2 separate regions of the Homo sapiens genome follow, and region 1 is linked to region 2. Evidence: fine-mapped expression QTL. A gene starts in region 2. The other region holds a variant in brackets. All regions are shown on one strand. Distances are between the middles of the regions.

What was found.
Region 1: its variant is fine-mapped to the expression of HMBOX1 in whole blood (INTERVAL, PIP above 0.99).

What each region holds. Positions count from the first base shown.
Region 1 is chr8:29,047,636-29,055,973 of GRCh38, reverse strand. It overlaps HMBOX1 (homeobox containing 1), which reads right to left. Exons shown (of 10, transcript NM_001135726.3): 9 at 6,926-7,020; 10 at 2,712-4,956. The coding sequence ends at 4,819. It also overlaps the pseudogene RNA5SP260. Among named protein-coding and RNA genes, the nearest start is that of HMBOX1, 160 kb to the right of the region's middle. The variant A/TA (reference allele first, on the strand shown) is at 4,076.
Region 2 is chr8:28,887,009-28,895,346 of GRCh38, reverse strand. HMBOX1 (homeobox containing 1) reads right to left here and starts at 4,952. Exons shown (of 10, transcript NM_001135726.3): 1 at 4,669-4,952. INTS9 (integrator complex subunit 9) reads left to right here and starts at 5,378. Exons shown (of 17, transcript NM_018250.4): 1 at 5,378-5,473. The coding sequence starts at 5,465. RefSeq lists a silencer at 4,710-4,829 and enhancers at 4,482-5,038, 5,200-5,399, 5,039-5,595.

The DNA of each region.
Region 1 (8,338 bases), 160 kb before region 2:
CCCTTGCTATTTAATAAGCACAAGCAAAAAAAAAAAAAAAAAAAAAAAATGGAATGCCTTATATGTGTCATTCCCACCCCTGCCCCAGGACATCCCCCCACCCCATCCCACACTCCCCAAAGATACCACCAGCAGGAGCTGGGCAATATGCCCAACTTTCACTTGGGAAATCCTGACAAATCAATCCGGCTCAGTAAAGCTATAAATGGATTTGGCTGGTCTCAACACAGCCCCAATGAATACAGTAGTAAAACATTACTAATAATCACAACAAAATGACAAAATCTATCATCACTCTGACATGATTCAGATCACAGAGATTAACACAGAAACCAACACACAATGGTGAGGGCCAGGGTTCTTCAATGTAGTGTGCTACTGAGCACGGGATCATCAACAAGAAAAATTATTGCCTAAGAATCTGTTGGGACACACTGGGGAGAAAATACTCTGGTCGTTCTCTGAACAACAAAAGACAAAAAACAATTTTAAAAGGCAGAGCCACAAATTAAATGGGAAGACTGCTTGTAACCAAACCCTTCTGAAGACCAGAGAGTAAAGACTTAAGAGTTCACGTTTGTAGGAAGGGGAAGGGAAGGAAGGAGGGAGGGAGAACATCTGTGGGAAAGAGATCATTTCCACTGTTGAGGGCAGAGATGATGAGGCTGGTCAGTGGAATACGTAGCTGGTCAAGACAGGGAGGAGTGTCTGTGTTAAGAGATGGACCACATCCAGCTTTTCCCTGCTGTCACAAGATTAGAAAATTCCAGCAAAGAAGTCAGCTGAAGGCCTAGTCAGAGGGAAACAGAAGAGGAGCTATTCACAGGATGAGGCTGGAGACTCTTGATTCAATGAGTCTGTTTGTACTTGGTGCCTGATGGTTGATATCCAAGGGAGAAGTTTCTAAAGCCAATATTTCTTAAAGACAAATGTTAAACAGGCAGAAAGGAAATAATAACTATATTGGTGAATTCTTCAGTCATCTCCTTTGAGGTAAAATATATCTGGATACATGGACCTAACATAGGTGGTGGTGACCACTGAACTGGCTGCCACCATAAATCTACCAAGAACTAGAGAACTGGATGTGTACACCTCTGCCTTAATGATTTTCCTCGTCTCTGCCCCAGGTTCCTTCTTCCTGTGATGGGCCATGGGAATGTGAATATGGGGGTGGGGTGGGAAGACTGCCCTTGTGAGTGACAGGGGTGGGGACTGTCCAGAGTCATAAGTGAGTGGAAGGCAACTACATTTATTAACCACTTAAAGGATTGTGATTTTGATTGTGAAGAAAATTGCTCTAAGGGCACTCCAACATTACAGACTTTGTTGAAACAAATCAAAACATTTGGAACTGAATAGCACTGAAGGGCTCAGATAAGAATGCAGGGTGTTGCCCTCCCCAGCCTTCATCCACTGTTAGGGTTATCAACAGATGGGCAGAGATCTCATCAAGATGACCCATTTTAAAAGGTCCCTGTGTCAGTGCTTTTAAAGTTTGGAAAGTTTACCCATCTGACCATAGTAATTCAATTAAGGTGTCTTTAAAGAAATAACAAATTATATGAATACCTGTTGGCAAGTTCCCCCACACCCCACTTCAAAAGACCTTTGAAAGTCCTCCTCGACAGGAAGGAACAGCCCCTGCGGGAGTCCCCTGGGGCCTGAAGGAGAGAGTGAAGTACAACGGGAGGGGCGGAACAACCAAGAAGCATACAGTGTGAGTTTTTAGAGCCTGGCTGCTTTCCCTTCAGTAATACGGAAGTTTAGGGTTTCTATTTTAATTCCACCTCTAAAACCTGAAAAAGCCTAAGAGAGAAATATACTACCTAAAGACACTAGAAATAAATATAACAGTAGCAGCGCCACACACCATTACAAGAACCAAGGTGGCCTGGACAAAATGGCAGAATTGAACTTGGTGACAAACAGAAAACTAACAGGTTTAAATCTAGGCCCAAAGGAAGTAAATTCTCACTCTTGGTGAAAAAGCAAAAGTGACATGTAAGGCAGTGGGTCTTCAGAGCAGCCAGCGGTCTTCTCCAATGACAAGAACAACTGTGGGTGGAAGATGCCTTCCTCCTGTTCCCACTGAGCTCTCCAGGACATTCTCCTGCAGTGGTAGAAATATTCTTTCAGTTTTACCACATTGCCATATAGGGTCTGGTACTGCCCTTCATGGATGCGAACTTGCCTTTATTCTCTGAAGCTTTTTTTCTCCCTTAAAGGTGTTAAAACAATGAAACCTTTGAGTGCATCCACGGCAATCTTTGTATTTCTTTAGAAACTGCAGCTGTCTTAACAGTTTGAGTCAGTCTGTTCCTTTAAAAAGACCAGCAAGTACAAATGATACTAGCAATCCCATGATAAAGAAGCTATCAATTATAATAATCCCCTTACAATCAATCATGGATGTGGCTTGTCAGAGCGGATTTTTTCTCTGTCTCCTTGTACTTTCTGATTCAATTGAGAATAAGCGTCAAAATTCCACAAAAATGGGACTATGTTACATTTCCTCTAAGCAAAATAAAAGGAAAGGAAGAGAACGTAATCTCCTAATTGAAATAAAAAGATAAACCAAAAAAGAATATGAGTCGGTGGGGGGGGGGCGGTGGGAGGCTCATTCCTGAGAATAACAAATGCTACTCTTGAATTTGTTGGTTCAAGTAATACAGTAAAACAGAAGAGACGGCTCCACTTCACTTCAATGCTTGGAAGCTGAAAAAAGTACATATATTTTTTCCCCCTGAAATCCATGGACAAAAGTGGGACCAGGCCCTGCATATAGCTCTTTAAAGTCACAGACATATATAAGGTGGCACTTTCATGCCCTCTCAAAGACTTTCCTCACACTCACATAAGCAGGATTAACAGATAAGGAAATGATGCAGTCAGCGTGTGCCTTAAGTGGAAGGAAACCAACTACAAACTGGCGGATATTCAGTATCTCCTGAATGAGAAAGGGAAAACTGAGGAAGGTCATTCAGTCTCTCTCTCTCACAGTTTTAAGTTGAATACATTTGGTGGAGGAGGATGGGTGAAGAGGTAAGGAAATGGCACCTTCCTTTTATCTTAGAAATTGTTTTCAGGTAACGGACAAAAAGAAGCCGTGCTTAACATCCAGCCCCACATGCCCCTTTAAACAAGGCTTCATTATACATAGGAGAGATGGAGCGAGGCAGAAAATCCACAGCAGTTGTGCCTCTTTCAGGCGCACCCTGTGCTGCTACATTGAAGGCTCTTTCCTCTTACCCACAGTGACAGTGTGTCATTTAATCGGGATGCCAAGAGATCATTTTCATACAAGGCCAGCAGATGTAATTTTCTTTGATGCATGAATAGTTCATCATTTTGCTACTAGATGACAAGGTGATCACAGGGTGACTTTAGAATGCAAGTTCACTGTTTGGTATTTTGAGTTCTCAAAATGAAAAAAAGATTTATCAAATATAAATATCTTTAAAAAGTAACAAAAGTGCTACATATGTGATCAAGGAAAAAAATTCCATTAGTTACTGCCGCTTAAAGTAGATTAAACTTTACAAATATTACCACATCCATTATCAATATGGCTTCCAATTATTAAATAAATTGCCTGTAGCAATACAGCTTTTCACACCTCTCCAAGGACAGAGTAAAGAGAACAGCAAAGCAGTCCCATCGTGTTCTCATACAGCCACAATGTGAGTAGGAAACGTCCCCTGCTTTTCTCTGCTCCTATCTGGGCAAGTGTCTGCATCTGTGATAAGCAGCACAACCCCACTATGAAGTCCTCTAGTGACCTCTCAGAGTGAGGGGGCTTCCGTTTAATGGATACAAACACTGCAAGTTTTTTCACTCATTTTTGACCTTAGCTCCATCCTTGAAAGACTTTTTTGGTAGCAGGGAAAGGGGACACTGACAGGAGGCAAAGCAACTTCCACGATGACCTCCAAAACTTTTCCAGGCAGGCACTGCTAACTGTGCCGTGGAATGTACAGTGGTTCTGAAAACTGGACTTAGCATCCATTAGACATTCAGCTCATATTTTTTTTTTCCAATGCTCTCAAGCTGGGTTTTTTTTTTTTTTTTTTTT[A/TA]ATGACTTTTGGTTTTTGTCTTTGTTTTTAATCATGGTCCCAAAGGCAGAAGGCAGTATTTTATCTACTAAGTCACACAGCTTGTGAGAGGAAAGGATGTCTGTGTCAGGCATGTTAACTTCAAACAAAATCTGAGATCGGCTTTTTCCATTGACATTCTTAGCACAGCACCCAAAGAAGTATAATCTAGCCACAGTGTGGCTATAATGAGGCACGGCTTATTGCAGCTGGAAATCAATTATCCTCACGCTGAGGTGGGGATTCTAGTGTTCCTTTGACTCTGTGGATACTCCCCAAATGGTGTCTGTCATTCCTGTGCCACGACCTCAGCTTGCATCCTATCAGTCTTGGGGAAGGAAAAGGGAGTACAGACTAGTGTTACAAGAATCTAAAGGTACCCAAGATTTTACACGTAGTCTAATATTTGAGAACTGAGGGCTATCTAAATACCTGGAAGCACTTTCTTGGAATGCTAAGACGGAGCAGCAAGATTTTCTAGCCTCGGGGGCTGGGAGAGGGAAGTTTGGTTGGTTGGTTGGTTATTATTTACTGGGAGTTAATACTGAGAGAGTATATGCAAAGGCTGAGGGCACCATGCCATCTTCACAGAACAAGACCCTAACAGCTACCTGACATACAAGAAACTGCAAGTTATACTGTAAGAACACATGTTAAGGACCGAGGAAAGTCTGCTAAGGTGCTACGTCTAAACTAAGTTAACTTGTCATGTTTAACCTCCCTGATCAGTCATCATCCAGGGCCTCTGTCTTGATTTCGTTGGCTCCTTGTCGGGCCAATGCCAAGATAGTGTGGTTGACTGCTGCCATTTCCACAGCTAATGAGATGGGGTCTTGGTGGTCACTATGGCTCGTACTGTCATCCTAGATGTGCAGAAATAAGAAATGTTATTAGTGGATTGGAAGAATTCTTTAGTCACAGAGAGACATGCTGGGGCAAGGGGAGGCAGAACATTCGTGGGAGGAAACTGGGGGAGGGGCTCATGATAAAATAGAGGTAAATTGTATTTAAGTAGACACTGAATGGATATAGGTCCAAAGATTTTCAGTTGATAATCTTATGATTCAACAAGTAAAAAGCACAAAAAATGTTTTTCATCACTGAGAATTCTATTCATTCTATTAATAAGATTGCTGGTGATGATGATCAAACCTGCAGTGATTGATATAAAACCAACAATTTGGATCTTTCTGTTTGTAACAAATATAGCACTAATCACTGAAGGCCATACTAGTGAGCTATTAAATTCCAGATTGCTGCTCTTACAAATAGATTATTAGAATTCATGGTCCCTCTCTGAACTGAGAAAACTAGACAGAACTTACAATTACATCTTACAGATAAAAAATGCATTTTTGTAAAAAAAGAAAAAAAGAATTCTCCATTACAACAGGACACATGTCACTGCCAGAAACGGCTACGGGAGAAAGGGGAGGAAGGTGTCGAGCTCTCCTGCTGCAGGCAGCTGTGCAAGGGGAGCGGCAGGCGTCTTACCTAGAACTAGTGTGAAGCTGTCCTCCCCGCGCAGCTCAATGTGTTAAACAATAAAGCTGTGAAGGAAGCTGGCATTGCAGGATGTACGTCAGGCACTGAAGATGGTGTTACAAATAAGGGGTATGTTTCTCACCTGTCATCTTCAGGGGAACTCCGTATCAAAGAGCTTTGGAAAGGGTAAGTCCCTTAAGGAAAAAAACAAACAAAACATGGAATGTGCTGCCCTTAGGGCATCTGTAAAAAAAGATGGAAATGATCCATCTATGTGGGTAGACTGAAAAGAGGAATGTTTCCGAACAGAAAGACTTACAGAATATTCTCTTGGGGCTATTAACTAGAGTCCTAAATGGGAAAAAATGGTAGTTCTTCAGAAGTGTGGACATCATTGTTTCCTTCTGATGTTCACAGATTAGTTTTTAGAATTTACAAAGGGATCAGCACACACTTGCATGCATTCTAGGTGTGTGGTAAACAGAGGCTATTAAAGAACACATTGGACTATATGAGCTGGCTGAGGAGCAAGAAAAAAGCACAGACCCCAGAAAAATGAGCAGAAGTTTTCTTGCTGTGGTCTAGGGGAAGGTACCATGCGTTCTCTGCATATTCCAAATGGAAATTTAAATCCTATCAAAATTTTAATGAAATCTGTCAACATCTATGTGGGGGTCGAGGAGGGACTCCCACAGTCTTAGTTACTGAATTACTCCACGCAGTGGCTACAATTAAATACATTTTCCCCAAAAGCAATGCAGAATAAATCAGGGCGAGGTGAAGAGTCATGCAGGTATTGCACTTATGAGAGGATGCATGTGTCAGTGTGCCAGAGACTCTGGAAGAACCACTCCTTTGGGCAGGAGGGTTCCCACTGCAGTGGGGCCAGAGTGAGTGGGGCCTTCCATCGTGCCCTGCGTCGGTACGTGTTTAGGCATGGGGTCCAGCTGCCCCTAGTATTTCTCAAACACTGAGTGTGTGTCGTGAATGGTGTAACTTGCTTGTTTGGATCAGATCCTCCTCTCTTCTTCTACCTTCTCTGCTTCTCTGCCTCCCTCTGAACTTCTTCCCTCCTCCTCCTCCCCATTGCGTACTTGCCAAGTATCCTGTTGTATGACAATAAATCCATGTGGGTGAATAACGATCTCTCACAAATTCAACAGGACAACTGAATCTTACCACATTCCTTTCAAATTACATGAAATCTAACTAGACACAGGAGCAGAGTGGAGGGACAGTGACTGTTTCCCCTCCCCCACCCCATCAGCCACACCCAAGGAACTAAGCTGTCCCACTATACCCCCTGCTCAGGCACCAAGAACCTCGCCCAGCTGCGCAGGGGCTCACCTGCTCAGAGTAGTCATTCCCGTCGACATCATCACTGTTTGAGTGGCCTCCTGGACTCTGCACATCTATCCCATGACTCTCCAGGATTGCTGCTTCTTCGAAAAAAGCAAATAGATCCCTAAATTATCTGTTACCTTATCACAATGGCTGAAACACTGAATGAATTTTTGTGCTAAGGAAATTAATTAGAATGTAATTAAACAAGAACCTGTATTTCTCTACATTTGTTTCTTTTAGACTGTAAGATGGATGAAATTCAACTGCATGTAGGTCAGGGGAGGCACACATTTGCCATTCTGGGGTCTCTGCTGCTGTGCATGTTAGGTGCTTCATAAATACTTGCTAACTAACTAAACAGTCTTCCTATCTTGGGGTTCTATAGAGCATATGAGAACTGTACTGATGAATAAAAAGTGTATTTACAAAGGAAGGAAATGAAATGCATTCTATGCCCATACCACGCTCAATGCGCCCGATCTCGTCTGATCTTGGAAGCTAAGCAGGGTCAGGCCTGGTTAGTACTTGGATGGAAGAAATGAAATGCAATTTTAGAAGCTAAAAACCAACATCCCACCTGACTCACCAACTTAAATTTCTTATTCTTATTTATTACTGTTACAGTTTTGAATGGGAACAAATCCTTTATTTCTTCCTTTTTCAGTTGTATTCGTAGTTCCCTCTAGGGCACTTTTGGCATTTTTGTTTTCTCTGTTCAGCTTTATTGAAATATAATTAATAAAAATTGTATATATTTATGGTGTACAAGGTGATGTTTTGATATGTGTATATATACATAAATGATTACATCAAGAATCCATATTTCTTAAATGCTCTTTATCTCTGCCTTTTGCTGCGTTCCTTGTCTATTAAGTCTCTTTCATTCCAAACCATTAATCAATTGTTTCCTAATATTTAAGTCATAGTCCAGTAATAATGAAGAAATTCTGGGTATTACATTCCCTTTCTCAAGATCTTACAAGTATCTTTCAAATGTACCACAGGAGTAATCAATTGCTCAGGGGCCATGTCTAATTCTATATTCTAGAACTTTAAGAAGAATGAGTTTTATAAATAATAATGTCATTACCATTACACTACAAATAGTGTAAATAATACTAACTGTGGTTTATTAAAAACACAATGAAAGACATTAGGGCAACTTTTGTTAGGCTTAGAAGTTAGGATCCGGCACGGTGGCTCACACCTGTAATCCCAGCATTTTGGGAGGCCGAGGCGGACGGATCACCTGAGGTCGGGAGTTCGAGACCAGCCTGACCAACATAGAGACACCCCATCTCTACTAAAAATACAAAATTAGCCAGGTGTGGTGGCACATGCCTATAATCCCAGCTACTCGGGAGGCTGAGGCAGGAGAACCACTTGAACCCAGGAGGCAGAGGTTGCAGTCAGCCA
Region 2 (8,338 bases):
CCTGTTTCAGCAGTACCCACAGCATTTCACTTTCTTGCTATAAAAATTGTGACTAGATACAAATTAAAGTTACTGCCACTTGGCAACTCCACGCTACTTAATACGTATACAGTAATGAGGCTACTAATATTTTCAATACACCACATGTGGACCATCTCTGGACATAAGATAAACAAAGAAGCAGCCAGAGAGAATACATACTCAGCATGTGGAATTTAGTCAACATTTTTATCACAATCCACACTCTAAATTTAAGAAAAACCTAAGTGCCCTTTGACTGGATTAGAATCATTTTACCACTTAACAGGAAGGAGTCTAGTGTCACCCATTTTAAGGGTGAAAAAGTTAAAATAATTGATCACTTCAAAGCTAAAATCAGACTATTGTTACTGTTTTTTTTTTTTGCAAATGTTAAAAAAAAACTATAGCCTAAGAATCTGTCAAATATTGCATTAAGATTACACTAATCACTGGAAAAACTTAATGTAACTTCAACTTTATTACCACTATAAGGGTAAAAACCATGCTAAAGCCAGGGCCCTTCCAGGAGCTAAATGCTCTTGGAAAGTGTCCAAAACAATGTTATAGTAAATTTCCAACTTGTTTCATCTAAGGTCAAGGAAAACAAATTATCTAAAGCACTGGATTATGTTTGAATACACTGCAACTAAAAGTTTACATCAAATAATCCCATGGAAAAATCTTTACTCTGCGCCTATGATGGGCCCTAAATCCAGTAAGGGCAATGTGGGGGAATAGCTGCACCTAGGAATCCATGCTACGTCTTACTTACTAATATTTTGAGAAAACTTTCAATATCAATAGCTTCCATTTTGAGAGAACTGTATTTTAACAAAATCTGTGAAAATAATGGTTTGGAATGATAATGAAAATCTCCTCAGCTTCTATAATGTGGACAACATGTGCTGGTTACTCTTTGGTTTCTAGCTTCAGTCAAAGTTCAAGGTCTTCTGCTATTTGTGGCTCAGATTCTTTCTTATGGGAGGCATGTCTGATAGATATACACCAATTTCATAAATAAATAAATAAACATAAAAGTATTTTATGTATGAGTGTATTGTGGGTGTACATATATGGCACTCTAGACAAGCCATGCTTTTCACTCACAACAATGCTTTAATAAATTACAGTTCTACTACAGTGGGAAGTAAAAGCCAACTGTTAACAGAAAAATCTAGCCAAAGAATAGCAAAGTGAGCTACAAAATTAATTCCAGAAGCCAAAGAACTAAATAAAGCTGGTTCACAAAACAAACAAAACCAACACATTTTCAATGAGCACTATTCGGTTTATCTATAAATGTTCATGTATTTAAAAAGTTGAGTGGTATGCCAACTTTCACTTATGACAACATTCTACATAAATACCTGATTCCCAAGAGAAATAATTCAGGTTTAAAGAGCTGTATACAAAAATAAGAGAAGCAAGAGCTACAATGAAATGAACAGAACTAAATTGCACGGGAGCCCTAAATGTGGGATGTGCTGAATACAGTGTACAGGAGACTCAAAATACACAAATTAAGCCTAAATATTCCCAATGTATTCAATATCTATGAAACAAGCAATAGAATTCCAATCAACACTTGCCACAAAAATTGCCATAAGCTGGTTGCTATTTTTTAAATGATGTAACAATGACAGATTTGTTGCCACATATTTTGTAACTTAGGAACACTGAGCTATTAAGTTTCTATTAGCGATGTTTTAACTGAGGATTTGGGCTAGAAGACTGAAATCTGTTTGTACAGCAGTGAAAACGAAGCCTCACTAAAGGCATTCAACTTCCAGCTAAAGGCTCCTTTCCTTGATGCGTATTTGTGACCATACATAGTGTTCACTAAATGCAGTAAACTAAACTAGCAACAGATTAGTTAAAAGCAGCTTAGATTTTCAACTTCCCATAATACAGGCAACATCTTTAGAAGCAATCACATTAAAATAAATGTGTCTTTCACAGTTACGGGATGAAATTGTAAGCTGGACAAGCACCCATGCCCTGGTTTTCTACTTTATTTGTAAACCATATGACTCTCACATGCTGAGAATGTTTTATGCTTTAACCTGCAGTAAAGGCTTTACATCATTTTAATGCCCAGTACTTAAAATGCAACAGAATCACCCCCAACAAATGCTGGGAATATATTTGGTTTACATGTAATGATTTTGATCCCACTAGTAGCCAGAAAAAGTTTAATGAATGCTTTTTCAAGTAAATAACTTTGCACTTCTATAGACAAAACAAAAAGAAATTTTGAGGTAAGGGTAGATGGAAGAGAAAACACTCGTGTTTTTCCAATTTAAAATATTAACAAACATGTTGGTTTTTTACTTCTAAAATAATTATTAAACATTTTTTAAAAAACTCCATGACTATTATAATATGCTTCAGAAAAATAAAACAAAACACTCCGTTAAGTAGTTACGTAGGATTTTTCTCTGGTTTTTGCAAAGTAGTGTTTCAAGTTAAGATACAAGCTTAAAACAAATGATTCTGAAAATCCTGGTCTATCACAAACTAATGGCTTAGTTTTGAATCAACATATTGTATATTCTACATCTGAGATTTAGAAATCACATTTTTTTTTCTATTCAGGTCAATTGAAATATACATGCTACCTCACTCTTTCAGTCCCCCTTATCTGTGTGAATGACCAACAGCAAAAATTTTAAATCAATGGTTAGAGGACATATCATAAAATTACACACTCTATCAATGTGGTTTTCAGTTATCATAGAATCTAAAGGTCCCTTACTGATGATAGGTGGCAGATTCAAGAATTGATAAGTTTGGGGAATATATTCAATTCTCAACAGTCGAAATAGAAATTATGCCAATTTCTTTACTTTAAAAATCCGTTACACTAAAAAAATTGTCACATAAGGATTATTGAAGAACTTAATAAGGAAGTACAAAATATGACCTTAAATTCTCCTAGTGTGTTATTAAATATTAAAAACTGTGAGAAATAAGAGATGTTGCAATCCTTTCCTTTTTAACTCTAATTGAAATTTGAAAAAAAATTTAGAATTCAAATTTCCCAACTTTGACTTAGAAACATAATTCAGCTAGATCAAGCAACTTAATTGCACAATTTTAAAATAAGTTTAATGCAAAGCACTGCAATCCTGATGTGATAATTACCTGCAGCATAAATGCAAAATAATAAATGCATTTAACGATGCATTTTATGGTAAAACCACAAAAAGCACAACCATATTAGCACAAACTAAATAAAAAGACACAGGCGGTATTATGTCCAACAGAAAGAGAAATGTTGTACGAAGCCAAGAAAGAAAGGAAGGACTTAAGGAAGGAAGGAAGGAGGGAGGATAGGAAGGAAGGAAGAGGGAAGCCAGAGGTTTCTGTACCTGCAGGATACCAGAGAAATGAGCTAGTCACATCACTCTACCTTATATGATACATGGGTGATTTTTTTTAAGCTTCAGCGTAAATAAAAACAGTAATCACTTTATACCATTCAACTTTACATAGTGTTATCTTTAATGCCAACTGCATTCTTCCCTTTACTCACCCAATGCTTCTTCACTGTTCCATTCCACCAGCTTTCAGGCAAATGCAAGACAGAACAGGGTGGAGTAGAAGAAAAATACAAGCAGCGCCTTTCGGCGCACCCCCTCTCCCGCAAATAATTTCCAACAGTTCCTCCTGCTACGAAAATAAGTCGCCCTATCTCCAGATACATAACAGACATTCCGTCTCCTTAGTAGACACACACAGACGCGTACACAATCCAGCACTCCCGACCCCCACCCCAGGCCCCCCGAATCTTCAGCAATTATTCATCTAATTCACACGAAGACAAGATACCTCTACCTACTGTTTCGGGGTGAAGGTGGGTGGAGGACGCCTTTCAAAGTAGCCCCAATAGTGTAACCAAAACACGGTTCCGGAATAAAATATTAAGAAACACTTTTCCTTTCCCACCTATCTACCGACTTGAGGATGCAAAAAATCCATCTCCACATCACACCATCTCTACAGTTCTCGTGGCTGGAGTTTGGGGTGGAGATTCGTCCAGGGGAGGGGGCGGAGGCGAGTGGCAGAGTGTGAGCGGGCGACGGGACACAAGCGAGTTGTTGAGCCCGGCCGCCTCGCACCACGTCGCCAGCCCAAACGCCCAGCACCAGGACCTCACGCCCGCCCCTCAGCCCAGGCCCAGAGCGAGCGAGGACTCGCGCTGTCTAACTTCCCATCTACAGACACCGCTCCAAGACGAGCAGAGCACACAAGTACACGTCACACAGTTTAAACACACTTACACACCCCAAACAAACCAACACACCTGCAAATCACCTCACAGTTTCCAGAACTCCACACCGGAGACCCCACCTCCAGGATTCAAACCTTCCGCTCATCGTAGAGGAAACCAGAAGAGTTGGGGGGCAGTCGACGCCTTTCCAGGACCGGACCCCACGAACTGCCCCACCCCACAGCCCGCGTCTGGGTCACCCACTCGGAAGCCCCCTGCTTCCTCCCTCCTCTCAATCCGGCCGCTTACGAGACCCATCCCCAGCGTCCGCTCACTTCCTCCCCAAAACCCCTCCAAAAAAATTGTTTTAAGTGAAGAGAAAGAAGTGAGGAAAGAGACTTGAGGTAGTCCGGCTTCAAAACCGCTCGACTCACCTCAGAATCCTCGCTGAGTTCTCTCCGCCCGGCACAGCCCCCTCCCCAACGTCCCAGTACGAAGGGCTGAGATAGGGAGGAGGGAAGGCGGGAGGGGGAGGGGTGTCTTCCGCGTGGGGCGCCCGTCGGGAGGGGACTGGGGAGGGGTTGAGGCCGGCGCAGGAAGAGGAGAAGGGGGAGGGGAGGCCCCTATCTCCCAGTCTCCCCCTGAAAAACCTCCCTTGTCTCAATCACATCAGACTGACTGTCTTTGTCTGGCTGACAACCGCCATATTGATATCAACAGCCCCTCTCCCACCTGCTGCCGCCGGGCGTCCCTGGGAGTTGTAGTTCCTGCCTCCCCTGAGAAAAATTGCGGAGCCCGGCGCCTAGAGGGCCAAGGGAACTACAACTTCCGGCAAGCCCCGTGCCCATCCGCCTTCCCTTTGGGAGGAGGGAAAGGGGAGTCGGAGCCGTCGGGACTACACATCCCAGAACACCATGGGCCCCAGGCCCGTAAGGAAGACATGATATCATGCTGGGGTGGAGAGGGAGGATGCATTGGCGGCTGGGATGAATTTGAGCTGACGGAAGGAGGCGTTCGGAGAGGAAAGGGAGGAAAAGGAAAGGCGACCACAGTTCCCATGATGCCTGGAGGGGAGACTACATTTCCCATTATTCCCCTGGAAGGGACGTGAGGATGAAAGACTGCAAGTCCCGCGATGCTCTCGGCTGGCAGGTGGCGGAGATTGCACCGGAAGACGCTTCCTGGGTTTGAGGAGTTCAGTGACTGCTATTGAACCACCAAAAGTCCATTATGAAACTGGTGAGTCTTCGCTCCTAGGTCAGAGGGCAAAGGTGATGCTATAACCTTTTGGACCTCTTTTTTTCCTACGTTGGGCAGGGAATCGTCGCACGGGAGGGGTAGCAATTATTGAGCTGGAAAGTGGAGTGGGCTAAGGAAAGCTGCTTTTTGTTGTTGAGAAGGTTTGAATTCCCTCTCCCCCACCCCATCCCTCCCAGGAGGTCTTTTTTCACTCGTTAGTGGGTCTTTTTGTTCAGACAAGAGGTTGACTGTCACAGTCCTTCGCCCATGAACTCTGTGGGCTCTGTTAACCAGGTTTGGACGTCCTGGTTCCCACGTGAGGGTTATAATAGGCTGTTAACAATCCGTTTCCATTCGATTGGCGCTTGAGTATCCTGTCTCCCTACTGTTGTTGAGACTGGCTAGATTTAAGCAGACAGTAAAAAACATCCAGCAGAACGTAATCACTTATTAAATATCCTGTTATATAGACTCCTCACTGCCCTTGGAATTCAGGACGAGGTCAGAGTGTGGAGAAGTTGAGTCTTAAACCCTGCATGGGATTTAGATGGGCAGAGAAGTGTTATATGGTATTCCATTCTAAGACTGTAGGGACTTCATGAGCCAAGGCTGAATGAAGCGTGCTCGGTATACCTGAAGTCTTAACATCACACAGCTCAAGCACCTGGTTCATGGAGGCTCCTCAGACCTTTGATTTGAGCCATTTGACTCATTGTGCACACAAGTCTAACTAGTTTATTCCAACTCGATTCAATTAGTTAATAACATAGTGTAGAAAGGCAGGTGTGAAACACTGTTTCTCAACCTTTTAAAACCCATATTTGTGCAGCCAAGTTATTGTCAAGCTTTACTTGAGGCAGGAGAATCGCTTGAACCCGGGAGGCAGAGGTTGCAGTAAGCCAAGATCGCGCCACTGCACTCCAGCCTTGCAACAGCGCGAGACTCTGTCTCAAAAAAAAAAAAAGTTTATTTTTTACCATTTATATAATTATCTGAACATGCTTTGCCAAACCACACAACACACCTACCCTCATCTTGATAATCATTGTGCTACAGGCATATATTCTGCAAAGCCAGCTGTTTTCTGCGAAGTCAGAGAAAGTATTAAAAGTGGATTCAATTCCGAAATTGTCCCCGTATAAATCTGTTTATATAAGGGGAAGGATGCGGGTCACTAAACCTTGAGAATAGCAACTTACCCCTGGGTCAGTGTGTTACACATTTAATAATGCAGAATTAAAAGTCATAGCCGTTGCCCTACAGAAGCATGCAACCTAAGAAGAAGATAGAAAAGTAAACCAAAGTTATTATTTATTTATTTAGAGACAGGGTCTGGCTTTGTGGGGCCCAGACTGAAGTGCAGTGGCGCGTTCTCAGCTCGCTGCTACCTCCACCTTTCGGACTCAAGCGATCCTCTCGCCGCGTCAGTCTCCCCATATAGCTGGGAATACAGGCGCGCACCACTGCACCCTGCTTATTTTTTTTGTAGAAATGGGGTTTAACCATGTTGCCCAGGCTGGTCTCAAACTCCTGGGTTCAAGGTATCTGCCCACCTCAACCTTCCAAAGTGCTGGAATTACAGGCATGAGCCACCATGCCTGGTCCGAAATTATAATTCACTGTGTTCATGGTGAAATAGAGGCGTGTTCAGGGTTTTGGGAATTCAGAGAACAGAGGATTGGGGAGGTCAGGGGACAGCTTCCTGGAAACGTGACTCTTGAACTGATAAGGATAAGTAAGCCAGGGCCTTCCATGAAAGAGGTCAGCTTATAGGAGCATAAGAGCTTGGTACCTTATTGGCTAAAGCATGGACCCTGTGTTCTCAATAAAGAGCAAATTATATTTAATGTGTTCAGTTTAAGAAGGCAGGGAAGTGTGAAATAGTTTTTCCCATAACAACTCATTAGTGAGGGTATCAAAAAGCCAGGGTTTACTTTACATATATTTTAGTTTGCTCATAAAATCCTCCTGCTTAATTTATTTAGAAATATGAAACCGGGGATTGTAAAAAAGTGGAAAATTATTTTTTCCATTAAGAACCAAAGATGTCTCAGAGGAAAAGGAAGTATTCTATTGATACTCATACTCCCTCTTTACTTTGCAACTATGTATTACATACTAAAATTTATTTGGTAGTTGATAGATAAATGTAATTGAGAATTCCCATCAACATACCAAAAGCATTGTTGCTCAGTAAGTTAGATGGGTGTGTCATGCCTCCCAAATGGTTGGAATAAGTCCTCCCATGGCCTAAAAGTTTTAATTTTGTGTACTGCTTCAGAAATATGTAATAGGCTGTGTTTTAAATTTATAATTATGAAACAAAAACACATTTTGTTTAGCATTTTCTCATTTTTGAGATTCACTTTCCAGAGTACCCTTCCCACACACAATCTATGACCACCTCTTATTGATTCTGCTTCCTAAATGCAGCTTTCTTAAATAGGTTCTATTTCTCTCCAGTCCAACTAGAATACTGTCTTTGTAATCGGAATTCAACAAGACCCCTTATCTGGTCTCTCTGCATTCAGTCTTAACCCTCTCAAATTCATTCTTTCCTCTGCATCCGGAAGTTGTTTTAATTGCAGAGTTCCATGAAACCCTCTCAGTATCTTCCTTTGCCCTTAGGATAACCTCCTACACTTAACTTGGTTGAATATGTTCCATTGCCTGCCTCACTCTTTTTTGCCTGGCTAATTTCTTCATATATTTCAGATCTCTGTCTAAATAACACTTCTTCAGGGCCTCGTTGAATTAAGTACCCCTGTTATATATTTGATGGCATACTTCCTATTTGTAGCACTTGTAATTATTGGCGTGTGTCTGTCCTCCCCCATGTAGATTCTGTGTAAATAATTGGTAAAT